Homo sapiens: one gene and its partners. The protein of the gene in region 4 interacts with the protein of the main gene of each other region in a pairwise test. Each region holds a gene or a part of one and is shown on either strand. Other genes may lie near its edges. The genes, in order: COBL, JADE2, SLFN12 and PACSIN1.

The links.
Region 1: the proteins of PACSIN1 (region 4) and COBL interact in binary tests that used the Homo sapiens proteins (3 or more experiments, as listed by UniProt).
Region 2: the proteins of PACSIN1 (region 4) and JADE2 interact in a two-hybrid assay, tested with the Homo sapiens proteins (2 studies listed by BioGRID and IntAct).
Region 3: the proteins of PACSIN1 (region 4) and SLFN12 interact in binary tests that used the Homo sapiens proteins (3 or more experiments, as listed by UniProt).

What each region holds. Positions count from the first base shown.
Region 1 is NC_000007.14:51,313,679-51,321,816, forward strand, and holds the start of COBL (protein cordon-bleu), read right to left. Parts: upstream 3,132-8,138; 5' UTR 2,956-3,131; coding exon 2,915-2,955; intron 1-2,914.
Region 2 is NC_000005.10:134,563,629-134,570,960, forward strand, and holds part of JADE2 (E3 ubiquitin-protein ligase Jade-2), read left to right. Parts: intron 1-865; coding exon 866-982; intron 983-2,487; coding exon 2,488-2,952; intron 2,953-7,332. UniProt on the Homo sapiens protein: Scaffold subunit of some HBO1 complexes, which have a histone H4 acetyltransferase activity. Acts as an E3 ubiquitin-protein ligase mediating the ubiquitination and subsequent proteasomal degradation of target protein histone demethylase KDM1A.
Region 3 is NC_000017.11:35,422,388-35,429,719, forward strand, and holds part of SLFN12 (ribonuclease SLFN12), read right to left. Parts: intron 682-7,332; 5' UTR 642-681; coding exon 1-641. UniProt on the Homo sapiens protein: Ribonuclease which is part of an E2/17beta-estradiol-induced pro-apoptotic signaling pathway.
Region 4 is NC_000006.12:34,461,924-34,469,075, reverse strand, and holds the start of PACSIN1 (protein kinase C and casein kinase substrate in neurons protein 1), read right to left. Parts: upstream 3,001-7,152; 5' UTR 2,806-3,000; intron 1-2,805. UniProt on the Homo sapiens protein: Plays a role in the reorganization of the microtubule cytoskeleton via its interaction with MAPT; this decreases microtubule stability and inhibits MAPT-induced microtubule polymerization.

The DNA of each region.
Region 1 (8,138 bases), on a different chromosome or scaffold from region 4:
CTTCTTCTGTCCTTTATTAACAGAGGGTCCAATGGGAAATTTAGCCCTGTGTTCTGTAACAGCCGACTACTGGGATGGCTCCTATAAATATTCAGACAAACGCAAAGTAAACAGATAAAGTAGAGAGTTAAATATACTTCAAAACCTCACCAAAAGGCAATTTGCCTTTACTTGTGTTCTGAGTATTCTGTCAATTCTTATACTTCAACTGAGCTCTAAAACTCCCTAAAAGTCACATCAAGTCTGACTTGTTAGTTTTTGCACACAGCCTCTTTCCTAAAAGAACACTTTCCCCAGGAGTCAAGGAAGTCATACATCACTGTTTTAATGAAATTCCTAGTAAAAAACATACAATTTCAATCCAAGTAAAAACGTATATTTGTGTTTTTCACAAAGATAACTAATAACTACCTGTTAATAATTTAGCCAGACACAGAGTCAGTGAGTTTACATTCACCAACCTATCTCCCTTCAGTAATCTTCTAGAAGAGCGTTTGTAGGCCACAGGGTGAAATCTCGTTAATTCACTGCACCCAGTCTAGCTTGTTTCTATACAACACAAGGAGGAGTGGTAGTTTCAGCAACAGCAACAGCTTCACCACATCAGTTTGTTATCATGTGGGAAGACAGAGGCTTACTGAAAGTTTGATTTTATAATAAACGGTTGCAGAATCAGATGGAAAACAAATTTCCCTCAAGCACACTGCAAACACTGCCTTAATCTCAGGGAACAGAGGAGTAATCTCAGTGAAGAGCCAACAGAATCTGCCTGCCACCAATAATGTACTAAAGCCACAAATTTCACAGCAATATCTAACCTTTATAATTAGCAAGCATACACCTAAATTATATAAAATATTCGAAGACCTAACACCATTTATCTCCTCAGATTTGAACACAAAATTGCTTATTAAACACGTAATTCTTGTCTGAAAAAATATAAGGATATTAACATTTTCTTGATGCTTCTTCACTGAAAGTATTAACAAATGACAAAGTGAGAACAATAGAAGTTAAAAATAATATGTCTACATTTCTTGGACAAAGATGTTCGGACAAGTAAATTAGACACTGGATATGAGTGAGGGAAAGAACTGAATGCATCAGGAATAATTTCATGTTTTCCATAGCAAAAATCCTTAGTTTTACTTTGCAATTCAAATATGAAAGCCAATCAGAGCTCTGGGAAGCCCTGAGAAGGCCAGCCCTCGACTACCTCTTGCCACACAGTACCAGGCTGAAAAGAGTGCCACGCTCTTAGGGTAAGTCCTTTCACTTCTATCATTAGACTCCCTTCAAGGATCTTACAGATACTCTTTGGATACAGTTTTGCCGGCCTTTTAAATGTTCTCTCTGTCTTCATATTTATTTATAAGGTGATAGTGACAAAATAATTCAGTGTCCTTAAATAGGCTCATTTAATAGGCTATGAAAGCCACAGATTTAAAGATACCTCTGTTTCACATTTCCCTGTTATTTTGGGATGCCTATTACCATGAAAAAGGATTTCCCACATTTACTTTCTTTCTGGGGAATTTGTTTGTTCAAAGAGAATTATATAACCACCAGTAAGTGCACTGCAAAAAAAAAAAAAGAGAGAGAGAAAGAAAACTTCTTTTTAACATTCCTCAGCTTCAGGATTATTTGATTTGCTAACCTGGCTCACCTTTTCCTGGCATTAAAGGAAAACTTTAAAATTTTAAAAAGAGCCCGACTGAAAGTCTTTTACACACTTGGGCAACACGCCCGCCTATGGGCACATGGGCAGGGTGAGTCAGTGGGACACAACTGTAACAGAAAAAAAGATTTGTTGTCCCCAAAGCTGCCTCCTTCAAGTCCAGTTGCCATAGCAGAAAGTGGGCCCATTCAGTAAGCAGGTGCAGGGCTCACCCCAACCCTCATTCCATTTGCAAGACTCATACACATTTGCTCCAGGCGAGCGAGCGAGTTCGAAGGTCCCCGGCGCGCCGCGCTGAAAACTACAAAGTCCACCGGGACTGCGCGCTACCCCGCGGCCCAGCCTGCACCGCTGGCCGGGATGAGCACGGCGCACCTGGCTCGGGGTCTGAATAATGAGCAGGGCTGCTCGTCCTGTTTGAGGGAAATTACTCTTTCTGAGAGTCAAATCCTGAATGTGACGTGTAATCCCTGCACGCAAGGTGTGGGGATAGCAAACAGAAACCGGGAGAGGTTTGGGCAAAAGCGGAATCGCGAAGACAGGGATGGGCCGCCAGACTCGCGGGTCCGCTACGGATGTCTGCGCCTCAGGCCTGGCCCCACTAGGACGCCCCTTCCACTGCCAGGGGAGACCCTGGAATAAAGGCAGGGAGGGAGAGCTGCTGCCATGAAACCCTCCGGGCAATCCGAACACCTTCCGAGAACGCGGGGCCCGGGCGGCTGCGAAGCCGGGGAGCCCTCCCCTCCACGCTGCCGGGAGAGCCGATCCTGGGGCTGCCGCCGAGGCCGGGAGAGGGAAGACTTGATGGGAACCGGCCAGGGGCAAGCCCGCAGGGAAGAGGCCGGAGTCAAAGGCCGGGCGTCCCCTCGCTCCCCGCTCCACCCCTACGGCAAACACTTGGGGGGCCTGAGGAAAGCTCGGAGCTGAGTGGGGGCTGTGCTGGCGGGGACCCCCATAAGGACGCCTGCATACAAACCACCCCGCGCGAAAAGTGCGCTCCGGCCCCGGCCCGACACGGTTACCTGGGCAACGACCCGGGTGCCCAAAGTACACAGCACGCACCACCACCCAACACCAGCACCCAACACCAGCACCGCACCACCTGCTCCACCACTACCACCAGCACCCGCTGGGGCGGCAGAGAGGGCGCCCTGCCCGGGAGCGCGCGGTGCGGACGCGGGCGTCCGAGCCCAGGGAAGCCCCCTCTCCACCCCGCCCGACCGCGGGGCCGCTTACCCGGTCGGGGGCTTGGCCGCCGAGGCGCGCGGCGCGTCCATGGTGCCGGGGGCCGGGACGCGGGCGGTGCTCCGGGCCCGCCGAGTCAGGCGCTGGCTACCGCCGCCACCGCTGCCGCCCTCATTCACTTTTTCCGCGCTGACCCATCGTCCTCCCACGCGGGCCGGCGGAGGACAGCGGCGGAGCGCGGCGGACGGAAGGGGCTGGAATCGTCTCTAGCGGGCGGGGGCGCCGGGAGCGCAGGGAGGGGCTGGCGGCGGCGCGGGGCGGGGGCGCCGGGAGCAAGGTGCGCCGCGCCCCCGCCCCGGCTGCTCTGCCGCGCCCACCGGAGCGCCGCCCCCGCCCCGCCCCGCCCCGCCTGCTCAGAGTCCCGACCCGGCCCGCGGCGAGCGTCCGGGGAAGGAATCCTCCGGCACCTGGGCCCTGCACCGACACCCGCGGGTGCGGCAGAGGGCTTCTCCCCGTGCTCCTCCACCCCTGGGGGGAGCGCGACCCTCTCTGGGCGGAGTGGGGGATCCCGGGGCCGGCGCCTCCTGGCGGAGTTGGGGGAGGGGAACCACCTGGAGCCTGGAGGCCGTGCGAGGGCGAGGTGGGCGGACCAGCCCGGGAGGACTGACGTTGGAGGGTGAGAAGTGAGTGTCCGGCACCGCTCTCTGACCTTTATCCGTGCAGCAAATGTCTAGTGCGTAGGGTCGCAAAGTGGGAGTCCCGACCGGGAGCGTCAGGAACACCTGGGAACTTGTTAGAAATGCAGATTTCTGGGGCCCACCAGGTCCCACGGAATCAGAAACAGTGCGGGCTGGAGCGCGGCCTCGCTTTGCTAACAACTCACTCGCTCTAGGTGAATGCTCGCTTAAGTTTGCCAACCTGATTCACTGGGCGCTACTGTGGCACAACCCTGCCACTCCAGTGCGGGCTGGCGGGCAGATATGCAGGTCCTGCCGGCCACGCCGGGGCCCAGAGCAAGTCAGCCAGAGGTCCCTTATCTGCCCAACTTCACCTCCACTCTCTAAGATCTTGGTTGGTATGATGGGCTGACCTATAAAAGTGGCAGTTTCATATGGTTTCAATGACTCGAATAAAAGACCAACAAGAGGCCAGATCGGGCGAGCCTGATAGCGTTGGGGGTGACGCTCCCCTTGCGATCTTGTCATTGGATGAGGTATCCAGAGGCCTGCGCAGCCTTCCTCCCTCTGATCCCCTGCTTTCTCATTAACTGAAGGGGGGGCAGACCAGTCTATATGCAAAATGTGAGTCCTTACTCGTGGCTGGCAGATCTTGGGTGCTCCCTGCTCCCACCTAGAAGGTTTCCTAAGTCCCCAGGTGGCCCTGGGGCTCACTTCCCTGCAGCCCAGCCTCCCATGAGTGGAGCGCTTTCCCGGCTCAGGGCCTCTGGCTGGGATGCTGCTCCACAGTGCTCTTCCTCCTCCTTTTCATCCCGTGGTCTCCCCAAGGAGCCTTTCCTGGCCTCTCTGTCTAAAAGCACCCTGCGGAGCACAGTGGCTTACACCTGTAACCTCAGCACTCAGGGAAGCCAAGGCCGGAGGAGCAGTTGAGCTCAGGAGTCGGAGACCAGCCTGTGCAACCTGGGAGAACTTTCTACAAAATAAAAAAATTAGCGGAGCATGGTGGCACACACCTGTAATCCCAGCTACGGGGCGGGGCGGCGAGTGGGGAGCAGGCTGGACAATGGAGTGAGATCCTGTCTTAAAACACAAAATAAAAGCAGCTCTCACTCAAGCTCCTGACTGCTGCCTTGTCCTAATTTTCTTCTGAGCATTTGTCACTGTATGTGTGTGTGTATGTGTGTATGTGTATATATATATGTGTGTGTGTATATGTGTATGTGTGTATATATGTGTGTGTTTATATTTAAATGTAAGTTTATAAAGAAATGTTTACATGTAATGTGTTATATTTATAGACATGTTTATATGAATGCATAAAATTTGTATTTATGTAAACTTATAAATATGTATATACATTATATATAAATGGAATAAAAAACATAAATAACATATCCTATTCCGCATATATTTTGCTCATGTGTTTGCCATTGGTCTCCTCCCTAGCATGTGATCTTAGCAAGCGCTGGGCCTTTGTCTGATTTATCACCCCCAGCATCTAGGGCAGTGCCTAGCAGGGTGGAGTCAGTGCTCAGTAAACAAAGGGTGCACTGAATGAATGAATCTCTTCTTGCACCTTGGGTGTGGGTATTAGAGAGTCTCTCCCAAAATCTGGGGAGCCCCTCCTTGCTCTGGACACCACCATGGGAAGGGCTGCCCAGGAGGGGCCAGAGCTGAAAACTAGACTAGGCACTGTGAGCCAGACCCCATTGAAATCCCTAAGGAGAAGTCCACCTCACAGGTGACACATACTCCAAGCACCTGGCAGAGGCAGCAAGAGGAAGTATGGTGGGGACATGGAGCAAAAGAAGCCCGGAGTGACCCAGTGTCTCAGATGCTGAGCACAGATGGCAACAGGAAGCCCGAAGCAGGTGGATGGTGAAGAGTAAGAGAGCTCCTCAACATCCAGAAAAACAATGAGAAGGAGGTGACGTGCCACCTCCAGGCCAAGATGCAACTTGCTGTTCTAGGAAAAAGGCCCAGGTGACCCTAGGCCTGGACAACCTCAGATCCTTGGAAGGCCCCCAGACATCTACTCAGAAACCCAACAGGGACCAGTTTCCAGAAATGAAGTGGAGGGTTAAGCCTGGTTAGAGCTGTCAGGATGAGACACAGAGTAAAGGTCAGACTTCTGCCAGAGGGAGGAGCTTCACGCTGTGACCCAGGGCCTGCAATCTAAATGGGCCAGGACTGCCGATCACTTGTGTCAACTGTGGGGAGGGGCACAGAGCCTGGGGGGGCAGGCGGGGCCTAGGACCTGATCAGATTCTGTGCATATTGCCACCCACACTTCCCTGACTGATAAGGGCCCCAAGAGATGCAACTGTGGGGAGTTGTTTTCCAAAATTGTATAGTTCAACAGATATTTCTGAGCATCTACTGTATGCCAGCCTTTGTCTGCGGTGTGGATGTGGCCACCTCATAGGGAGGGCTAGGCAAGGAAATCAGTAACAGACAGGGCTGAGCTCTTCCAGACAGACAGTGAGAAAGAGGAATAGGTGATGGGCTGAAAGCAAAGGGCTGAGTGGGGCCTTGTAGAGGATGTCACCAAGATCAGCCTACCACTTGTCACTGAGCAGAACGCACTCCTTCCTGTGCTTACTGACTTCAGCAGAGCAAATGGCACAATCACACGCTAGGGAAACTCAAAGGGAAAGGTGTTCTTTATGGACTCTTTCCTGCACATGCTTTTAAATGTCCTTATTAAAACTGTCACTTTTTTTTTTTTTTTTTTGAGAGGGAGTCGTTCTGTTGCCCAGGCTGGAGTGCGATGGCGCAATCTCGGCTCACTGCAACCTCCACCTCTCATGTTCTAGCGATTCTCCTGCCTCAGCCTCTCAAGTAGCCAGGATTACAGGCGCCTGCCACCACGCCCGGCTAATTTTTTGTATTTTTATTAGAGATGGGGTTTCACCCTGTTGGCCAGGCTGATCTCAAACTCCTGACCTCAAGTGATCTGCCCACCTCAGCCTCCCAAAGTGCTGAGATTACAGGCATGAGCAACCACACTCAGCCACTTTTTCAGATGTCGACCATCACTAAATCATCTATATTTTATAGTGTGGCAAACATCCAGGGATGTGCTGATAAATGCTTACAAATGATATTTTTAAATTTTTTTAAAAAGAGCCCCTATTTGTAGCATTTGCCAGTTTTTGTAGTGTAAACGCACCTTGGCAGATTTCAAGCTAGGGTGTTGTAAAGTCACTGAACAGGGAGTTACAGAAGATGCAGCAAGACCGCAACTCTCCATGATTTGCCTTCCCACATGCGTGAAAGCAGAACCTTTGCCCCTTCATCCACAGAGCATGGCTGAGTGCTGCTCTTTGTCCCAGGACACCATGCTTGTGTCCTGATATGGGCTGTAATGGGTGCCCTTGGCTATAGCTCTGGACTACAGTGGCATCAGCTCTTGCCCCAAGCAGTAGGAGCTACCCTGAGACCAGGGTGTAAGGCTACTTGAAGGACATTCTCTCCTTGGTCTAACCCCATCCCCCTTCTTTGCTCCTAACTCTCCTCCCAGGCACACCTGGGGTCTCAACAGCCCCCATCGGCGTACACTCAGCTCTCCATGACTCGAGGTGGGTGCCTGCAGTCACACCAGCTGCTCTTTCTGGAGGGAAAATGAAAGGAAGAAAGCACATCAAAGACACAGATGGAAGCAGTCCAGTTTAAAGCAGGGCTTCGTAAACGTGGATACTTCTTGGGATGTTATTAAGATTTAGTTCGTGATGCAGTGAGTCTGGCTGGGACCTGAGAGTCTATGTTTCTAACAAGCTCCCAGGGAAGTGGAGACTGCTGGCCCAGGGAGCACGCTTTGAGTAGCGAGGGTTTAGGGTCAAACACAGTGAGCATCTTCGGGCCTGATCTTCCACTCACTGGTGGTATTGCCGAGAGCAAATTACTTCTCTCTAGGCTTTAGTGTCCTCCTCTCTAAAATGAGAATATTCAGGGGTGGATCCAGATTTCAAAGGGCCTGAATCTTACAAAATTGTAAGGACCTTTTAAATAAATAAAGCATACCATATGATTAATGCAAATTTAGATACCAAAAGGATCTTTATTTTGAATGTGTTATGGACCGAATTGTTTCCCCTCAAAATTCATAAGTTGAATATAACTGTAATTAGAGTAGAAACTGTCACTGTAACCAGTGTAAGGGTAATTACAGATAGAAACTTAGAAAAGTGAGTAAGTTTAAGTGAGGTCATAAGGGTGGGGGGGCCCTGATCCTATAGGGCTGGTGTCTTTATTGGGAGAGGAAAAGACAACAGAGCTCTCTCTCTTTCTTCACCAACCGCAGTGGCACCTTGATCATGGACTTCCAGCCTCTAGAACTGTGAGAAAATGAATTTTTGTTGTTTAAGCCGCGCAGTCTGTGATATTTTGTTATGGCAGCCCATGCAGTCTAACACAGATTTAGAAACTAAACCATTATGGATGCAACTTTTTTTTGTTTTGTTTTGTTTTGTTTTTGAGATGGTGTCTCACTCTTTCGCCCAGGCTGGAGTGAAGTGGCATGATCTCGGCTCACTGCAACCTCCACCCACCAGGTTCAAACAATTCTCCTGTCTCAGCCTCCCGAGTAGCTGGGACTA
Region 2 (7,332 bases), on a different chromosome or scaffold from region 4:
TCCATAAGTGGCACTCTCCTTCCTGGGCTCACAGTCTGAAGCCCACAATGCGGGCTTCTGTGATAACAGTTGTTTGTGTCAGCAGTAGGCACTTGCTTGCAGATCAGCATGTTGAAGACTGGGACCACCTCTGAGTGTACCCTGGGCTGGGCATGGCAGAGACAGAACCAACAGGGACTCCATCATGAAGACCCTTTGGCTCAGGACCTTTGGAGAGAATTGCTTTTTCCATCCTCAGGCATTAGCAATGGGGAGACAAATGTGCCCTGCCTCTGGGCTGTGGGGTGGTCTCTGCCCAGTAGACTTGGGCATAGTTGTAGGGCTGTCCCCATAGGAAGGGCTCAGCAAAGGCATATCCCCAGGAGAGCCCTAAAGACCTTCAAGAGGAGATCCCACAATGAGGCTTTTCTTGGTGCCTAGAAAAATAAGTAATACAAATACAAATCGTAACAAGAACTCTGAAGATGTTATTAACAAAGGCCTGAGTGCAGAAAGAAGGAGGATCTTGCATGTACCTATGCGCACACCAAAGCACCTGTCTGTCAAGGCCCACGCAGTCTTAAGCACATACACACAGTCAACTACACACACTGACGGCACACTCACACATTCACAGACAATTTAAGATTAGTCTCAGATGAGCACACACTAACACACTCATCCAGTGGTGAGCTTGGGAGAGTGAGGAGGAATTCCGGCCTTTGAGCCATGCTTGTTTGGTGTCAGGAGGGACTTGGGATTCAGGGGCTCAGCCACTGCCCTGTCTGCCCACCACCTAGTTTCAGCAGACAAACCCCCATTTTGGAGATCCCTGGAGGCAGGCTGGGGATGAGAGGAATGATGCAGCCCCCTGTGTCCTGCCCAGGTCAGCATCGGCTGCCCAGAGAAGATGGAGCCCATCACCAAGATCTCGCATATCCCAGCCAGCCGCTGGGCTCTGTCCTGCAGCCTCTGCAAGGAATGCACAGGCACCTGCATCCAGGTATGTGGCCTACTTCACCTCCTGCTGCCAGGAGCTGGCTGAGAGGCATGCTTGGGGCCTCAGACAGCAGCTGCCACCACCTTCTCCCCTCCATGGGGCTGCAGACTGATGGGCCCCAGAGGGGTGTGGGACTGGGGCCAGAGTCAGAATCGCACCTGTTGGGGAGCATTTCTCCATCCCCTGGTCTTCTAGGGAGTGGGAACAGACCCGGGGAACCAAGGCTCACCACCCCATTGGAGTGCTGAGAACTCTGGCTTTCCCTGAAAGCAAGTGTCTTGGGGCTTGATGAATACATTAGCCTCACTTCTGACATTGAATTTGACGCGTTAGGGGTTAGGAATCAAACTTCTCATCTAGCTAAGCTAATAGACTGTCCTGACACTGGAAGGGCTGTACCAGTCTGTCTTTAGCAAAGCCTATTCCCAAAGTCTAGCATGCGTCAGAATTACCTGGAGGGCTTGGTAAACATAGACTGCTGGGCCTACTCCTGAGAGGCTCTGACTCAGTAGGTCTGGAGTGAAGCTGAGAACTTGCATTTCTAACAAGCTCCCAAGGGATGTTGATGCCTCAGGTCTATAGTTTGGGAGTGCAGGGGGGAGTCATCCTTTGTCCCCCTCATCTTTTAGGAACAGAGTTGTCATTGTAAACGTTAGTTGTGCCTTCACCCATCCACGGACCTTCAAAAGGATTTGTGAGTGCAGCATCAGCAGTCATAATAGTTGGGTGCGTGATTGCTGACACAGTTATCATCATCCAAGGCTAAGAGAGAGGGTCAGGCCTCAAGCTGTCTGGATGAAAGGAGAGGGAAGGGGACTAAGTCCAGCCCCTCTTCCCAGAGGACAAAAAGGGGACCACAGTCCCCATCTTAGATGAGCCAGTGACCCATCATCAGCCTTTCTCTTGATGCTCTGTGATGCCAAAGTCATTTTGCCCACACAAAAATGCAGCTTGAGGCCAGGCACGGTGGCTCACGCCTGTAATCCCAGCACTTTGGGAGGCCGAGGCAGGTGGATCACCTGAGGTCAGGAGTTCGAGACCAGCCTGGCCAACATGGCGAAACCTCATCTCTAAAAATACAAAAACTAGGTGGTGCATGCCTGTAGCCCTAGCTACTTGGGAGGCTGAGGCAGGAGAATCGCTTGAACCTGGGAAGCGGAGGTTGCGGTGAGATGGAACCACTGCACTCCAGCCTAGCAACAGAGTGAGACTCTGTCTCAAAAAAAAAAAAATGCAGCTTGTCCCCAGAGGTGTTTCTCAACCGTCTTCTGATTGACTTCCCCAAAGCATGTGGTGTTGAATGGGTTACCTTTCCAGGCACCCCAGAGCTCCTCCTCCTCCCCTGCCGTAACTCCCATCCTGCACAGGAGGTTGGGAGCCCATGCCATTCTGTTTAGGTTCTCTCCAGCATTGCGCATTCTCAGTAGAGCCCTGGGGGAAGCCCCTCTGTCTTCTCCCCTCCCACCAGGCTCCCTCCATGTCTGATCCTGCCCCTCCTTTCCCCTCAGTGTTCCATGCCTTCCTGCGTCACAGCGTTCCATGTCACATGCGCCTTTGACCACGGCCTGGAAATGCGGACTATATTAGCAGACAACGATGAGGTCAAGTTCAAGTCATTCTGCCAGGAGCACAGTGACGGGGGCCCACGTAATGAGCCCACATCTGAGCCCACGGAACCCAGCCAGGCTGGCGAGGACCTGGAAAAGGTGACCCTGCGCAAGCAGCGGCTGCAGCAGCTAGAGGAGGACTTCTACGAGCTGGTGGAGCCGGCTGAGGTGGCTGAGCGGCTGGACCTGGCTGAGGCACTGGTCGACTTCATCTACCAGTACTGGAAGCTGAAGAGGAAAGCCAATGCCAACCAGCCGCTGCTGACCCCCAAGACCGACGAGGTGGACAACCTGGCCCAGCAGGAGCAGGACGTCCTCTACCGCCGCCTGAAGCTCTTCACCCATCTGCGGCAGGACCTAGAGAGGGTGAGTCCCCATGCCGCCTGCCCACCCCCTGCCTGGTGGGTCCAGGAGTCCTTTCCATGCCACACTCACTGCCCTGGAGCAGCTAGGACTCACCAGGACTCAAACTGTGAGCTCTGGTGGACCGGCCCTGCTGCAGGAGCCTGCCAAGGGGCTGAGGGCTTTCAGGTCCCAAAGAGTATGGGGGTGACTGACACTTTACAGAACAGAGAAGAGTCCAGTTCTTGAGTCTCCGAGTCCCTCTTGTCCTAGCCCTGTCACAGGCCTGGTGAATGGTGGGGGCCCTGCCAAGGTCATGAGGCTGAGAGCACCAGAGCTAGGGCGAGGACCTAGGCTTCTGGCACTTGCTTGCCTCTGTGGGCCCCGCCTGGTCCTAACACATGAGCTTGCATTGAGAATCTGAGGCAGAGGAGGAACTGGAGCTTCCCAAGCTGTCCCCGTAACCCATGCTGAAAGCCAGGGGCATCAAGAGCCAGGAGCAGCCAAACAGGCACGTGCCGGGCCAGGGCAGGGTAGATGGGTAAACGCGGCTCCGTGGGGTGCTGGGCAAACAGAACAGAGGCACGAAGGAGACAGGGTGGACTCAAGGAACGGTGGAGTGGAAGGAAGAGGTGAAAGGGGCTGGTGGATCGCACGAGACTGGGCTGGTGGATCACAGTGTGTCTGGAAGCTGCAGAAGTGCTAAGGAGGGACTGACATACTGTGGCTGGGACTTGCACCCAACACTCCCTGGAGGAGAAGTCCCAGAGTCTGGAATGGGTGGGCTGGCTGAAAACCACCCCCAGCTGTGTGCTGGGAAACAGGTGACGGTGGCTTGGTCCAGGGGGCTGAGTGAAATGAAGCAGGATTTCTGGATCCTTTTCCAGTCCTCTGAACCCCACAGGCTGTTCTGGTCTCTCCTCTCTGGGACATTTCTAGGGTTCCAGAGCATATGGGACCGTGTCACAGTGTCTCCCCTGGGTTCAGACATACATGCTCACCCTCTCCCTGGGTCCTGTCAGGAAATAGCCCTGGGCAGGAGCATGCAGGGAACGTTGTGTGACCCAAGGCGCCTGCTTTTCTTATCTGCATCGCAGTGGGCAAGGCTGTAAAATGGGTAGAACATCTCCAGGGGTGTTGTACTGTCAGGGAAGGGGCACTGGACCCAGCTTCCCCAATCCCCTCCTTCCCACTCATCTGCGCTGCCTGCTCAAGAGGGAAATGACCTATTGCCCCCAGAGAGCCCTCACTGCCTGGCAGCCAGCTTGCCACCAGGCCAGAAGGAAGAGGTGGAGGTGGGAGGAACCAGATGTCCCTGGCTCCAGCCAGGACAGAGGGCAAGGCTACCTACATTGCAGCCACCACCTCCTGGCCAGCCCAGCCTCCTGTCACATGTGGCAGGGGCATCAGGTGTAAGACCTTCTGGGACCGAAGCTGCTTCCAGAGTCTTCTTTAGGCCACCATGTCTCCACCCGCTGGATCTCCAGTGGAAACACCTGCTTTTACTCCTACTGTTTCCCAAACAACCCCTCAGAACTGACCTCTCTGTTCTGTGCTGGTCAGCCCATGTGTCTGTCCCTGGCTGGGTTGTCCAGGGAGGTCAAGGGCTTGACTCACTTATGTAGTCATCATCCTGGAAAAAGAGACTTGAGGAAGATCCTCCCAGCCCTGCTGAGCAGATGAGGAAACTGGGGCTCGGAGAGACGAATAACAGGAAGTCTTAGAGGAACTCCATTCCAAGGGTTTTGAGCTTGAATTTGGACCTCAGTCGGGGGCAGAAAAGGAGTTGTTGGCTTATTCTCTATTCTGTAAATTTCCTGGGCAAAAGCATCCCTTTTTCAGTCCCCTAATCTTCCCACCCCAGTGTTGGCTGGTTCAGGTGGAGCCTGGGGCTGAGGTTGGCGGGCTCTGGGGTTCCGGGGAATGAGAGCTGCTGCAGAGACTCCTGCAGTGGGAGCCAGAACACTCCAGAGTCAGGTGTGAACCGTCCCACTCCTCCTCTGGGAAGAGGAAGCAGGGCCAATTTTGAAGTATGTGCAGCCTCTTACGGCTCAGGGGGCCCTGTCAAATGCTGCTTTCTGAGCAGCCACCAAGCTGGGCTGGCGGGCACCAGCTTCAATGAGGGCAGGGGCATGCACAGCCCTGGCAGGGCCGAGGAGGGACAACCATGAGCCAAGCTGACCCCCATCAGCGGCCCAGCCTCAAGGCCTTTCCAGGTCACACATTTGCAACTTGGGTGAATGAACAGCGACAAGAACCCTGCCACGGGGCAGGCTTTCTGCAAAGGCCCATGGTGGTTGGTGGCCTGGCCAGCGGGCCCAGTCTCGGACCGTGGCCCAGTGCCAGCAGCCGGGAGTATCCAGCCTGTAACTGGGCACTAAGCCAGCCTGGGCAGGAATCATCGGAAGATGGGGCAGGGCTTGAGGTCGAGGCCTTGGTAGCCTGACTTTGCATCCAGTTCCTGCACTCCCAGCTCTATACCTTCTTTGTTTCAGTTTCTACTTCTCTGAGTTTCAGTTTCTTTGTCTGTAAAATGGGAATAAGGATCAGACTGACCTTGGGGTCACAGTGCATGTGGGGGACAAAGCTTAGCACAGTGCCCTCCATTGTTGGCCGTGATTGTTGTTACTGTCCTGGCCCCTCAGCATTTGGCTCTTAGAAGAAGGGAGGCCAGCCCGTGCGCTCTGAGGGTGGGCTCCACAGAGGACCAAAAGGGCAGGCCCAGTGCTAGGGCCTGGGAACCCAGCATCCTCCCAGATTGATTCGTTCCTCCTCAGCCAGGCAGGGGTTTTGCTGAGAGAAACAGGAGCCGGGGCTGCTGCCGGCATGAAATCCCATTTTATGGTCAACCAGATGTGCTTTCCTAAAATTTCAGCCTTGGGCCTCGGCCCCAGCGGACGCTCGGAAGGCATGGCCACTGCAGCCTCCCAGAGTTATTTACGGCTGACAAAAATCGCAGCACTGTTGATCAGCCCGACAAGTGCCGGCTGGTGTCCCCTAGCAACCGTGCTGACAAGCAGGCTGTGCAGGGACTTGCTGCTTGTGGCTCTGGCTCTGGTCACCAGGAGTTTATTTGGGAGCCTGACCTGGCCTGAGGAGGAGGCCAAGAGGGTGGAGGCGGCTCTGAGACACACACCTGCCCAGAGGATGATATGGGACAACTTCCCAAGGAGGGAAAGGCTCAGAAGGAAGTGGGTCCTGGCCTCAGTGCCTGGATGGTGGTCCCTTTGGCCTCCCACCAAAGCCAACCTTGTCCTGGGCAGCTCCAGCCTGCAGACCTCTGGCTCTTCTGCCCCTGTGCCTTCCATCTCTAGGGCTCCCCCAACCCATTAGTGCCCTTGCCTCACCCAAGCCCAGTCACCACCTCCAGCTGCTCCCAGGTCAGTAGCCCAGAAATTGCCACATCCTGCTCCGTGCCTGCAGTCTACTGCTCTCCCTGCTCACTTGTCTCCCAGGCCCTCCACCCTTCTTTGTCCTGCTTTCTTCACTCACTCCCTGTATGGCACTGGCCTGCTATGCCCCAGCCCTTGTCCCTCACTGAGGCCAGAACCCTGGCAGAGCCTCACCCAGTAAGAGCCACTCCCTCCACCAGGAGAAATCCCATAGCGCTGAGCAGGGCAGTCCCTGCCGCACACCCCACCTCATACCTGCTGCCCACATGCTGAGCCCTGCCTCCCTCAGGACAGCGTCCCCTCTGTCCTCATACCAGGGCCTCTAACTTCTGCCAGCCGAGCCTCTCGGTCCATTCTCTTCCCTTCCCTCCTGTCTTCCTTCCCCCACAGGGGCTCTTTTCCAGCCCACACCTGCAGCTGACGAGTCTGTCTTTTCTTCATCCCCTCTGCGGGTCCTTTTCCACCAATATTTGAATCTGTTCAACCCTCTCTCATCTTCAAAAGCGAATCCTCCCTCCCTATTTCCCTCTAGTCGTGGGTTCCTCCGCTCCCACCCCCATCTCTCCTTTCCTGTCATCCCTCATGGTATTTGCATCCTTGCTGCCCACTCTGGCCGGGTTTCCGCCACATCCCAGAGCCTGCCACCTGGGCTGCCTGCAGCCTCCCTGCCCACCTCTCCATCCCCCGATCCTCTCAGCAGCGGCTGCCACAATCAGACCTGCCCTTAGTCTTGGAGTCCTTTTTCTGTGATGCTCTGACCAGGTCCCCCCTGAGGTCCTGGTTTACCCCCCTCCCTCTCTGGCTGCTCCTTGGCCTCAATGGTCATCCATTGCTCTCCCCTGACTGCTCACTCCCAGGGCTGGAGACCTCAGGCTCCACTGTCTTTCACGGCTGCCCACAGTTTTGCCCCACGTGGGGGTGCTGGCTGCCCCTCCCTTTTGAGCTCCACACCAAGTCCCTTTTAAAGGCCACCGGCATCTCATGCCCAGCATCCCTGTTAGTTTCCTAGGCC
Region 3 (7,332 bases), on a different chromosome or scaffold from region 4:
AACTTTTCTGTCGAGAAGTTTTTAATTTCAACATGTGTGGATTCAGTAAAGGTCAATTTTTCTTTCCGATCAAGTTCTGTTCTATCAAAAAAAACCCCGGCCAAGGCCTTCATGTTATTTTCTTCTTGTATATCAACACAGGGCCTCTTTGCCAGCAATTCTGGTCTTAAATACAATCTCCCTCTAGTCTTTTTCATGTCTTTGAGGAACTCCAGTGCAGCAGTGGCATTCATGACTTTTGCAGATGTTATATCTCTTTTGTACAAATTGGAGCTCAAGGTGGTAATCCGCAGACCAGAGGTGTTCAAGCTCCATGACTTCACAAAAATCAGAAAGTAGTTACCATTCTGCATGAAGTCTAAGTACTCAGGAACAAATAACAGAATGTTACTAAAAGAATTTTCCAAATCTAGTCCTATTCCATCTTTTGTATAACTATAGTCTTCATTCTCAATTTCAGCCTTGATCACTCCCCCTCCAGAATTGAGCAGAGCACACATAGCTCGTGAGACACTTTCATTCTGCTTTTTTCTCAGTTTACAATCCTTCATTTTTTTCCTACTGTTCTCTCCAAGAGTGACTCTTCCCACATCTAGAACCAACTCGGCATAATTCGTTTCCAAATCAACACTGATGTTCATTTTCCCAGCAGCTATGCAGTGTCCAAGCAGAAATTCTTTTCTGTAAAATAGACAGAGCCATTAGAATAGGACCTGAACTAGAAAGATAGCAAATTCTGTATTATGAGGCAAATGCAAAAAAATCCTGTGCTGTATATATTCTACTAGACTGGTAAGTATATGGATATGAAGAGACTGGCAAATTTTGAGCTAAGACCGCAATAATTTATACTCCTACTGAATTTTCAAATTTGTTACTATAGTTCTATATAATGTATTCTAATTATGTAATCTCTTTATCCGCCTTTTTTCTCCTTTCTAGTCCCTAATATTGTACAACCTGTTTTCTCTCTCCTTTTCTTAAACAACCCCTGGAGTGAGTCTATGTTTTTATCTTCTCAGTGAACCAGGCTTTAGTTATACATATTATTTCTACTTTTCTTTTTATTTTAATAATTTCAGCTTTTACCTTAATTATCTCCATTTATGGGTATAAATCTTTTGGAAGATTTCCCGTTAAGGTCTAATGACATCCAACATGTCATGTTAATTATTTTTCCTTCTTATAAGAATGAAATAGATTTATAAATTTTGGCCATTGATCTTAAGCAAAGTGGGCTAAGTCATTGTGCCCTTTTTAAATCTAATATCCACATATTTTCAATAAGGAAAATTCTTATATACAAAACACCTGTGCTATGGTTTGAATGTTTGTGTTCCCCCAAAATTCATATGTTGAAATTATAACTCCTGAGGTGATGAGGTTTTTGGGAAGTGATCAGGTTATGAGGGTGAAGCCCTCATGAATGAGATTAGTACTCTCCTAAAAGGGACCCCGGAACACTAGCTCATCCCTTCCACTATGTGAGAACACAGCAATAAGTAGGCAGTCTGCGACAGGAAAAGGGCCCTCACCAGAATCCAACAGTGCTGGCACCTTAATCTTAAACTTCCCAGCCTCCAGAACTGTGAGTCATAAATTTCTGTTATTTGTAAGCCACCCAGCTTGCGGTATTTTGTTATGGCGGCCTAAACAAACTAAGACATTGTGCTTTAGTCTATGTATCCCTAATCCATTAGCTCTGTTCCCTTAAAATCTATTAGGATCACTGCTTTGCTCTAAATGGAAACTTTTAAGTTAAGAAGTGTAACTTAAGTTTAACTTTTTTTTAAGTGTAACTTAAGTGTAACTTTTTAAGTTAAGAAGTGTGACTTAAGTTTAACTATTTTTAAATGTAACAAGTGTAACTTTTAAGTTAAGAAGTGTGACTTAAGTTTAACTTTTTTTTAAAGTGTAATTTAAGTGTAACTTTTAAGTTAAGAAGTGTGACAAGTTTAACTTTTTAAAAAAAGTGTAATTTATGTGTAACTTTTAAGTTAAGAAGTATGACTTAAGTTTAACTTTTTTAAAAGTGGAATTTAAGTGTAACTTTTAAGTTAAGAAGTGTGACTTAAGTTTAACTTTTAAGTGTAACTTAAGTGTAACTTTTAAGTTAAGTTAATAAGTGTAACTTAAGAAGTGTAGGTTTTCCGAGTGGCATAGAGACAATTGAGAATAAAGTCCATCATAGGTAGTAATTGCTATACTAGAAAAGGAATGTAAAGGGGGTCAGAATATTCCTGTCCACAGCTGGACCAATATCATGCAGATACTCAGCTAAGGTTGTGGATACCACCTGTGTCCATATAAATTCCTGATCACATGTAAACAATGTTAACATTAGAGCCCCAAACCATTTGGACAGTTGGGGTTGAATCCTTTAGTTCTTTGTCCATGTTTTCTCTTAGCTCTTTGAAGATACTTAAGACAGTGCCTGTTTTTTATTTTATTAATTTATAAATAAAATCCTATATATTGATCATGTACAATGTGTTTTTTTGAAACTTGTATATATTGTGGAATGGCTATGTTGAGCCAACTACCATATACATTACTTCACATACTTATCATTTTTTGTGGTGAACATTGCTACTATTTTAGCAACTTTCAAGAATACAGGCCCAGCACAGTGGCTCATGCCTATAATCCAAGCAGTTTGGGAGACTGAAGTGGGAGGATCACTTGAAGCCAAGAGTTCAAGACCAGCCTAGACAACAAAACAAGACCACATCTCTACAGAAAAGTAAAATAAAATAAGAATTGGCTTGGCACAGTGGTTTGTGCCTATGGTCTCAGCTACTTAAAAGGCTGAGGTGGGAGGATCACTTGAATCCAGGAGTCCAAGGCTGCAGTAAGCGATGATCATGGCACTGCACTCTAGCTTGGGCAACAGAGAAAGACCCTGTCTCCAAATAAATAAATACATAATAAAGAATACAACATATTGTTAACTATAGTAATCATATTGTACAATAGAGCTCTTGAACTTATTCCTCCTATCTAACTGACATTTTGTAACCTTTAACCAACATTTCCCCAAACCCCATCTTCCCCCAGTAACCACTATTCTACTCTATACTTCTATGAGTTTAACTTTGATAGATTCTACAAATAAGTGAAATCATGCAGTATTTGTCTGTCTCTACTTGGCTTATTTCACTTAACATAAAGTCCTCCAGATTCATCCATGTTATCAAAAATGACAGGATTTCCTTCTTTTTCTTAAGGCTAATTAGTATTTTATTATCTATATGTACCACTTTTTCTTTATCCATTCATCTGTTGGTGAACACTTAGGTTGCTTCCATATCTTGCCTATTGTGAATAATGCTGCAATAGACATGAGAGTACAGATATCTCTTTGATAGACTGATTTCATTCCCTCTGGATATTTATCCAGGAGTGAGGTTGCTGAATCATATGGTGGTTCTTTTTCTTTTCTTTTCTTTTCTTTTTTTTTTTTTTTTTTTTTTTTTTCAGAAACCTCCATACTATTTTCCATAATGGCTAAGCTAGTTTAAATTCCTACCAATAGTGTGCAATGGTTCTCTTTTCTCTACACCATCTCTTTTTATCTCTTGTCTTTTTTATAATAGCCATTTTAACATGTGTGAGGTGATTTCTCATTGTGGTTTTAATTTGCATTTTCCTGATGATTAGTAATGTTGAGCATTATTTCATATATCTGTTGTCCATTAGAATGTCTTCTCTTGAGAAATGTCTATTCAGATCCTTTGCCCATTTTTTAATCTGTTTTTTTTTCTTACTATTGAGTTGTTTGGGTTTCTTATATATTTTGGATATTAACCTCTTATCAGATGTATGGTTTACAAATGTTTTCTTTCATTCTGTAGCCTATTCTTTTACTCTGTTGATTTTTTCCTTTACTGTGCAGAAGCTTTTTGGTTTGATGTAATCCCATTTGTCTACATTTGCTTTCATTGCCTGTCCGCCATTGGGATGACATCCAAAACATCACTGCCCAGGCCAATGTCTTGGATCTTTTTCATATATTTTCTTCTAGTAGTTTTATAATTTCAGCTATTACATCTAAGTCTTTAATCCATGTTGAGTTGATTTTTGTATTTGGTGTGAGATGAGGGTCTAACTTCATTTTCTGCATGTGGATATCAAGAACGTTATTTTAAAATCTTTGTCTAATATGTCTGATGTCTGGCCTTCCTCAGAGATGTGTTCTGCCAATTTACTTTCTTCTTTTGAATAGGTCATATTTTTCTGTTGTGTGTATGCTTTATGAATTTTTGTTGGAAATTGGACATTTGAAAAAACAGCGATCTCTCACAGTCTTTGCAGACAAATGCTATGGCAAGGCAAACCTTCAGTGATGGGCTAAGTATACTCTGATCTTAGGGATCAGCTCAAGGAAAAAGCTTAAGGTCTTCTCAGGTCTTTTCTGAGCATTTATCCTGCCTGGATTGAGCGGGGCTTTCTTGATTCCTCTACATACATGCCTGCTTTTGAATGTCTTAATTTCCCAAAGAATCTCACCCCAGCTCATCTTCTGAGCCTTAGATGGTTATTCTATGTCTCTAGCTATAATCTCTTGCCTAAGACATCTGGGGGTCTATAGTCTTCTTGCAGCTTTCCTGAGCAGTGGCTGTCACTTCTCCTCACCTGAGATCTGAGTTAGGGGATACAGAAATGAATCCTTCAGGCAGTCCCCAGACAGGTTACAACATTGAAAATAAGTTTTACTATGCCCCACCAATTCCAGGGAGGAAACTAGGAGCAGTGATGCTGCCTCCTCAAGACTAAGACCTTGCCATGCAGGGCAAAAACTTGGGCAAGGGTGAGTAAAAACACCATGAAATTTCCTACAGTTTTGAATGCTGCTTTTCCTTGATTGGGCATTCATTTAGTTGCAACAGATCTTTGTTGTTAGTTCAGCCAGTTTTGGGTTGCTTTTGATGTTTCCATGGAGAAACAGAGTTGAAGCTTCCTAATCCACTATTTTTCTGACATCATTCCTGTCACCATTTCTTTATATTAAACGCAATTCGATAATATTTTTAAGATTTTGCACCCATGATGTCCCTTTCTCCTATTCTTGTTGACAGACAATGCAATCAATAGCTTCACAAAATGAGTTGAGGATGTGAGCTGTATTTCTATTATTTCACATTTTACCCAACATGAGGACCTTTTTGCAGTGGGAGAGTTGGTCATGGTTGGCCATACTGCCCAAAACGAAAATATACTATTTGAATCTTGCTTTTCCATGTATCAATATAGTATATACAACAAGTTTTGCAAAAATAATAATTAGCTATTCTTTAAAAACCTTATTAACTGCATAATTTCATACATGGTATTAATGTACCATTATTTAACTATTACCTTACAACTGAACATTGAAGTTGCTTTCAATCATTCGATATAATTATACTAGAATCTTGACTCAGTTATTTCAATGTTTGGGTATGCTAATCACACAGTCTAATTTTCATTGAGTCTAAGAGTGCCCTGGCAAAGCACTTCAATTATATATACAGATACGGTTCAGATATATACAAAGATGGTTAAATCGAGTATGGGAGGCCAGAACATGTAGACAGAAAAGAAGCCAGATTTCAGGATATAAGAAATGGAACCTTGAAGGGGAAAAATTATGTAAGAGAAGAAAGAGTCTGAATCTGTGGAAATAAAGGTTCATGGTGAAACATAAGGTTATATTTGAACCTGTGCCTTAGGTACATAATTAAGCTGAAATTATGTAAGTATATAGAGTGTATATATGTACACACAGAGAGAGACAGAAGTTTGTAAAAGTTAAATTACTGTATCAAGTGACAAAAACTTCAAAGATTTTGATATATATTATCAAATACTTTCCCAAATAATTGTATCAGAATTATCGCTAGCAAATTTATCTTAGTGGTGATTACAGCACTTTGCCTTGAACCTTTTGGGGGGAAGAGGATATGGTATAAAAGCTACTGGAAAGCATCTTAGTGGGGATTACAGAACTTTGGCCTGTACCTTTTGCGGGGAAGAGGATGTGGTCTAAAAGCTGTTAGAAAGCATCTTAGTGGGGATTACAGAACTTTTCCCCTGTAATTTTTGGGGGTAAGAGGATGTGGTCTAAAAGCTATTAGAAAGCAGCATCTTTCCCTCAGTGTTTCCTGAAAACTCAGAGAGAACAAAGAGAGGCTGCCTTCTAAGAGATATTGGACCTAGCATTCATTCAAATAGGCTCCCTGGGCCTGGGTCCATAGAAGAAAGCATTTGCATATGACCCAGGGAGATTCCAAAAAAAGAGAACCTAAGTGGGGAGGACCTGACTCCTGGTAGTTGAACAAGAGTGAAGCCAGGTAAGCACAATCATTGAAGTTTAAATTTAAAACTCAATAGTAGTCTCAATGTGGCATAATTATGCTAGAAAGCAGAGGAAGATGTATATCTCTGCCATGCTGAGCTTTCTCCTTAGTATTATAGCACAATTAGTGTTCTTTAGACCCAATTTCTTCATATTTCTTGCACATGAGGCTGCCCCAAAGGCAAGTCCACCTTCCCTGTTGACCAGACAGAAGAGATTCTCCATCTCTACCCACAAAGGCTGCAGGAGAATCAGTTCCACTTCTACCCAGGCGCACAGCCCCAGCCCTACAATTTTCTGGTAATGCCTCACCAAGCAGCCTCTGCTCTGCTCCCCGATTCTTTTTTGCAGCCTCTCTAACTAGAGTCTTGTCCCCTTTCCTCTTAGCCCACCTTTCTGCACTGTCTACATCAGGCTGGGCTCTGTGTAAACTTTTTTGCCTAACCCACCATACACAGAAGGGGACAGAAATCACATCTCACCCTCAGATTGATTAAGGAGGGTGCTCATACCACTGAGAAACTTGGAACCCATGGGAGCTGCAGTTGAGCCACCTTATAGAGGACCCAGCGCTTGTGAACTAGCCTGGGATCCCGGTCACCCCAGTCCAACATCTGCAGCTGTGTAAAACTTTCCATAGTTGAAAATCACTGCCTTCAAGCATACATCTGGGACAAAACCCTTAAAAAATGAGCTGGGGATTGAGCTTACCAAATCCCTAGGGCCTAAAACTTACTGGCCTCCCTTAAACCTTGGGTCTAGGTTTACAGGTTAGATGTTTCCACTGAAATCCTTTATACTTTTGACTATAGGGGAAATTCTATCAGACCTGAACTCACTATTTAGGCTTTGTTGTTGGCTATCTTTAATGGGAAAGGAGACAGCATTCAGATCTCCTTAGAGTTATGTCAGAACAGCAGGTTAGTAGGAACTGCCCACAGGGTGGGACAGAAGTTGTAAGAGCTACCTCCTGGGAAACAAAAATCATGCAACAC
Region 4 (7,152 bases):
CAGACCTGTAGCCAGTTTCACTTCTCCAGGGAAGGCTTTCTACCACCAACTCATTCTTGCTGTGGGGATACGTGCAAACTTCTGAATGGGTCCCTCATCTCCTAATGGGAGACGAATGCAAAATATGTCCTGATATTGGTGAGGAGAGAAAGTAGATGATGGGACCAACAGTCACTCACTCCACAAGCCAGAGCTGGGTCTACTCTGTGCCAGGCCATGGGGCCACCGGAAACAGCACACAGACTCTGCCCCCACAGACCCCACAGCCCAGCAGGGAGAGGACACTGCATGATGGGAGGGTTCCCAGGGGAGGCAGCCAGGCTGTGGGGAGGGGATCATGGGTGGGGTTCCCAGCCCAAGCTGGGGAAGCTTCTGGAGGAAAAAGGAGTCTCAGTGGACTCCCGAGGGTGAGAGATTTGGGTGGGAAGGAAGAGGGAGAGGAGGAGACAGGAACAGCCTGTGCAAAGGCCTGCAGGTGACAGAAGCCCCACTTGCTTGAGGAACTGAAAGTAGCTCAGGGCAGCCAGGGGGCAGAGGGAGGGCAAGAAGGGAGAGTCAGCCTGGGTGTGGGAATGGTGGCAGAGCCACGTTAGGGAGACTGCATGGCTGTCAAATAGCAATGCGAGCCATTGTGGAATGAATGAATGATTGAATGACTGAATGTCAACTCTGGAAAATAGCTGGCAACCTGAGGGAGGGGGTTGAGTCCCTTCTTGGGCTTTCCCTCTATTCCCCAGGACCAAAGAGCCACCCAAACCAGACAGTTCTCTTTAGGCCCCTCCTAAGCCTGGAAATCTTGATGTCCTTCATAGACACAGGCCTGTGGCTAAGCCAGAACCCTTGTTGGCAGCCTCTTCCTCTGAAGTGGGTTTGCTCCTCCACACACTAGGGTCATGAGACCCCTGAGAGCTTGCTATGAAGACCTTAGAGGCTGAGGAAGGCCTGGCTTGGGCCTTCCCAGCTTCCCTGATGTTGACCTGGATTTTCCCAAGGGCTGGGACAGAGGCAGAGACTCTGGTCTAAAGTTGGCACCCCGGGAAGAAAGTGCCAACCCAGCGGCCTGAGGAGAGCCAGACCTTCACATCAGGCCTTCCCTCAAGCCAGGACCAGGCCTGGACACTCAAACCAGGGGCCCATAAGACCCTCTGGAGCCAGCAGGTTGCAACACTATCTCCAAAAGGCATAGCTGCCCATCAACTCCAGGCTTAGGAAGGGCCTAGCCGGGCATGATGGCTCAGGCCTGTAATCCTAGCACTTTGAGAGGCCAAGGTGGGCAGATCACCTGAGGTCAGGAGTTCGAGACCAGCCTGACCAACATGGAGAAACCCCGTCTCTACTAAAAATATAAAATTAGCCGGGTGTGGTGGTGCATGCCTGTAATTCCAGCTACTCAGGAGGCTGAGGCAGGAGAATCGCTTGAACCCGGGAGGCAGAGGTTGCGGTGAGCTGAGATCGTGCCATTGCACTCCAGCCTGGGCAACAAGAGCGAAACTCTCTCTCAAAAAAAAAAAAAAAAAAAAAAGGAAGGGCCTACTAAAGAGAACCACCTGGTTTGAGTGGAGTGGCTCTTTGGTCCTGGGGAATAGAGAGAAAGCCCAAGAAGGGGCTCGACCCCCTCCCTCAGGTTGCCAGCTATTTCCCAGAGTTTACATTCACTCATTCAATAAGTCATGCATTCCACAAGATATTTTCTTGGTGCCAAACCCTGCTTTGGTGCAGGGGCAATGACAGAGATGAATCAGATTCCCAGCCTGAAGGTACTTCTGGTCTAGAAGGAGATGAACAAGACAAATAACCCAGCCACAAGGCAGTCCAAGAACATAGGGCAGGGGGCAAGGATCTCACCTGGGGTATCAGGGAAGCTGCTGGAGGGTGATGATTTGGACTTGTGATAGAAAGGCCAGGATGGAGGATGGAAGCAAAATCACTGACAGACAGTCCTGTTTGCACCCCAGCTGTGCCAGGGGCTGGGGCAATGTGGGTTATTTATGGTTGTGCCTAGAAATAAGCGGCCATATGTGTCACTGCCTATGTGGTGCAGACCTGGGCTGTTGTGGGTAGGGGCAGCTGGGGCTTGAAGCTGGGTCTGGCCAAGCTCCCGGGTTTGCCACCATGTCTCCTACACCCTGATGACCCTTTAACCTTTTCATAGCCTCTTGTAAGGTGAAAATAAGGGGCAGAGGCAGCTCCAACAGGCAGCAAGTGGCCTGGGGCTTGCAGGGGAGGGCAGTGCCCAGCAGCCCATGGCTTCTGTATCTGCGGGGCCTTTTAGCATTATCGCCTCCTTCTTGCCTCCTCCCCCCTCCCCGCTCCCATCCCAGCTGTGGGGGAAGGGGTAGGGGACAGAAGGAAATACCTTTAACCATAAGCCAGACAGGCATCAGCTGCTGTGTTTCTCCCCAGCCCACTCTGATCCATAAATAGCCTATGCACCAAGCTGGCACCAGCCCACCCACCCCTTCTGGTAGCAGTCCAGAGACCCGGACCGCCCGGGCCCAGGCCCCAGCTTCCCAAGGAACCTATTTCCGGCGCTTTTCCTGGGGTAAGGGCCTCCGATGCCAGCTCGCTCCCCCAAGGGACCCAGCGCAGTGGCATCCTGGCACTGCCTGGGTGATGCCCGCGAACTCCGTCCCCTGAAGGCATCCCCGAACGCGCACCCGCTTCTCTCCAGGCAACTGCCCAACCCTGCCCGGGCTCTGGCCCAGGGAGATGTCAGTCCCGGCGCCCACTTCCAACACGCACTCCCTAACTGGACACCCGCACACACAACCCCCCCGCCCTCTATTCAAGGGCCAGACCTCCTACCTGGGGGCAGGAGCTCCGGGGACCATCGGCGGCGACTCGGGGCGAAGCGGGACGTCTGGGGCCCGGCCTCAAGCCCGGCCGACTTCCCGGGGGAGGAGGGGGCTGGCGCTGCCGCCGCCACCGCGTCGCTCTGGGATCTCGCCGGGGCTGCGGGAAGGAGGAAGGTCAGAGCTGAGGCGGAGAGGGGGGAAGGATGAGGAGGAGGCGTGCACCGAGCAGAGCAGATTAGAGAGGCATTTTTAGCGAGCCAATGGTAGCGCGGGCAGGGCGGCGCGGTGGCTGCGCAGGTGGACGCGCCGCGGCTGCCGGGGAGGCAGCAACCAGTTTGGCAGGCGCCGGGGGTGGCGGGTGGCGGGTGGCGGGTGGGGTCCGGCTCCCCGCTGCTTCAGCCGACCCCTGCCCCAGCAGTCTTGCCTGGCTCCCTCTTCTGGGGGCTGCCCGCGGCCCCGCGCGTGCCGGGAGCCCTCCGGTGCGCCCTCCTCCCCAGCCCTCCCAGCTGGCGCGCTCGGAGCCCGGGATGTTGCTCCCTGCCTCTCTCCCCATCTCCCCATCGCCTTGGCCTTTCCTCCTCTCCCGAGCCTCGGCGTCCCTTGGTGCGTGCGGGTGCCTGTGTGGTGGGTGTGTTGAAGACGTGCGTGTGAGCTGACTTGGGAGCGACACCCCCTGCACCACCGCCCCACTGATGCCCACCCCTGCCCGCAGCTTCTGCCCTGTGACCCCATGGGGCGGGATCGCTAACCCTCATGTCCTAGTTCCAGCAGGACCGGCTGTCGCCAAAGCAAACTCCAGGCCATGTCGTTGGAGCTCTCTAGGGGGCTTGGGGCCTAATAGGGGACCCTCAACGGCCTTCACTCTTCCGAACTTGAGCCCTGAATGCTGCCTGGAGCCTGGACGCTGCAGGGAGGAGCGGGGCACATACCTATTGAAGGCCTGTTCTGTATCAGGCACTGATGAGGGGCTGGGCTGCAGCAGAGGACAGAACAGACCAAAACTCTGCCATCTCATAGTTCACATGTGTGAGGGAAGATAGATACTCAATATCAGCAGCTAAGAGTGTTTTGTTTGGTTTTTGTTGTTGTTGTTTTGTTTTGTTTTGAGACGGAGTTTCGCTCTTGTTGCCCAGGCTGGAGTGCAATGGCACGATCTCGGCTCACCACAACCTCCGCCTCCCGGGTTCAAGCGATTCTCCTGCCTCAGCCTCCCGAGTAGCTGGGACTACAGGCGCGAGTCACCACACCCAACTAATTTTGTATTTTTAGTAGAGATGGGGTTTCTCCATGTTGGTCAGGCTGGTCTCGAACTCCCGCCCTCAGGTGATCTGCCCGCCTTGGCCTCCCAAAGTGCTGAGATTACAGGCGTGAACCACTGCGCCGGGCCAAGAGTGTATTTTAAAGTGGTATGCACAGAGTAGAAAAATAAAGCGGGAGCCAAGAGCGGTGGCTCACGCCTGTAATCCCAGCACTTTGGGAGGCCGAGGCGGGCGGAACACGAGGTCAGGAGATCGAGACCATCCTGGCTAAAACGGTGGAACCCGGTCTCTACTAAAACAAAAAATTAGCCGGGCGTGGTCGCGGGCCCCTGTAGTCCCAGCTACTCTGGAGGCTGAGGCAGGAGAATGGCGTGAACCCGGTAGGCGGAGCTTGCAGTGAGCCGAGATGGCGCCACTGCACTCCAGCCTGGGCGACAGAGCGAAACTCCATCTCAAAAAAAAAAAGGAAAGAAAAGAAAAAAATAAATAAATAAAAATAAAAATAAAGCCGGAGGAAGGGAAAAGAAGTGAGATTGCTCAGGACCAGAATGGGTCCCTGCCCTTTACATGTGTAGGGATTGCGGGGTGGGGGTGGTGGCTGAATTTGAATGTGAGCCCCTCAGGTAGGCATGCAGACTCTAGTTTGCCACAGAGCTCCCTATTGTTTGAGCCTGGGATAATCACATGTTTATATTTCCTGACTTCCCTCTCCACACACTTCACGAGAGGCACTGAAATTCATGCCCCAGTGACCCAGGGCAATGCCTGAATGCAGTATTTATTCGTGCAATAAGAATTCTCTGAGCACTGACTGCATGTTAGGTGTTGGAGCCTGGGGGAACTCAACACCTAGCTGGGGAGGCCAGATGGTAGTATGTACGTCAAGGCTGACCAGTGCGGCTAAGTGAGTGGACAATGTTCTGGAGAAGGTCAGTATAAGGCTCTGGTTTAGGCCATCCAGGAAGGCTTCCTGGAGGAGGCAGCATTCCAACAGGGTGCCAAAGGTTTACTGGGATTCTGATGAGCCAGACAGGGCAGGAGGCAGGGATGGATTGCTGGGAAAGGTCAGCAAAATGCCAGGGGACATTTGGCAAGTGGCTAGGACTGGGTCGTGGAGCACTGCTGGACACCCTCTGTGCAAGGGGTATGCTGTTTGTTTCAGGCTGGTGAAGCCCCACCCCCCACTCCCACTCCAGCAGCTCCTGGTCCTAGCTGCCCTTACCTCAACCTAGAATTTCCCAGTAGCCCCAGAAGGAGGTGTGACAAGCATGTGGGTGGGTGGGGGGAACATCGACTTCACTCAGTTGCTTGCTTGCTGGGTGAACATGGACAGGTAACTCAACCCCTTGAGATTCAGCCTTTTCATCTTAATAGCTGTGTGGCAAGTTGCTTACTTGATCTGTTCCTTGGTTCCCCGGCTTGGAAAATGGGCATGGCAACAGCACCTACCTCACAAGACAATTAGGTGAACTGCTTAGCACATACGTACTCAGTTAGTTTTGTTGTATTGATGATGATGATGATGATGATGATGATGATGGTTACACTTGCCTCATAGGGTTATTGCAATTAGACAAAGAATGTTAAGTCACCTAGTATAGTGCCTGGGACTTAGTAGGTGTGCCAAAATAATGGTATTATTATTATCATCAACTACATGCACCCCAAAATTTCTCCCTTTCTGGTCTACCACAGTGGTATGAAACACCCCTCTTTAGACAGACCTTTTTTTTTTTTCTTTTTTCAGACAGGGTCTTGCTCTTTCGACCAGGCTGGAATAAAGTGGTGCAATCACAGTTCACAGCAGCATCGACTTCCTAGGCTCAAGCAATCCTCTTTCACCTCAGTTTCCCGGATAGCTGGGACTACAGGCGCATGCCACCACACCTAGCTAATTTTTAAAAATTATTTGTAGAGACAGGGTCTCCCTATGTTGCCCAGGCTGGTCTCGAACTCTTGGGCTCAAGTGAGCCCCCCACCTCAGCCTCCCAAAGTGCAGGGATTACAGGCATGAGCCACCGTGCTTGGCCTACGAGGACTTTCTTAATGTAAAGAAGCTAATTCCCCAAGAGGCTCTTAAAAGACAATCTAGGATGGATGGACTAACAATTGGCCCCTCCCCTACTAATACATTAGCCTGGCTCAATGTGTCATCAGGAGCTTTGATGTAGACGGAATGAAGCCCAGGCCTGGAAGGTTTTGAAAAGGCAGTGAAGTCCAGAGCACAGGACACTGACTGAGAGAGGACACTCGATGTTCCTCGGCAGCAGGCATTCGGTGGAGGATGGCAAGAGCAGGAAGAGGACGTTCACAGGGGACAGGGTGTAATGCAGAGGGCACAGGGAGGACTCTGCCTTCCCAGGGGCGGAGCCACTTGGGGACAGTGTGGAAGGGCAATGGCTGGTCAGACCTGATTGGGCAGAGGTAGGGAGAGGGAGGAGGTGGGTGGGGAGAGGGGTGAGGGAGAAGACTGAGCTGGGCTTACTCCTTTAGGAGTTGAGGCTTCCCTAAAGCTGAATTCAGACCTTAGCAGCTTCAAGCCCCGAAAAAATGAGAGTGGAACACACACACACACACACACACACACACACACACACACACACACACCCCTGTCCTGTGTAATCTAAAATAAACTGTTATTTTAGGAATTGACACAACTTCCATGCTTCCTAAAATTAAACTAGCTTTCTTCTAGATTTTCTGTCGGTAAAACTTAACGTTCATCAAAGATAAACTTTCTCTCTCCCTCTCTCTCTCCTCTCACCTCTTTCTCTTATTGTTTTGTGCCCCGCTCAGAGAATAAGACTTTCTCCCTTTTGCACAGCACTTTTCACTTTTCAAAGCACTTTTCACATCTTTTTTCTCCTCAATGCACTTTTTTTTTTTTCTTTTTTCCGAGACAAAGTCTTGCTCTGTTGCCCAGGCTGGAGTGCAGTGGCACAATCTCGGCTAACAGCAGCCTCCGCCTTCCAGGTTCAAGCAATTCTCCTGCCTCAGCCTCTGGAGTAGCTGGGATTACAGGCACGCACCACCACGCTTGGCTAATTTTTGTATTTTTAGTAGAGATGGGGTTTCACCATGTTGGCCACGCTGGTCTC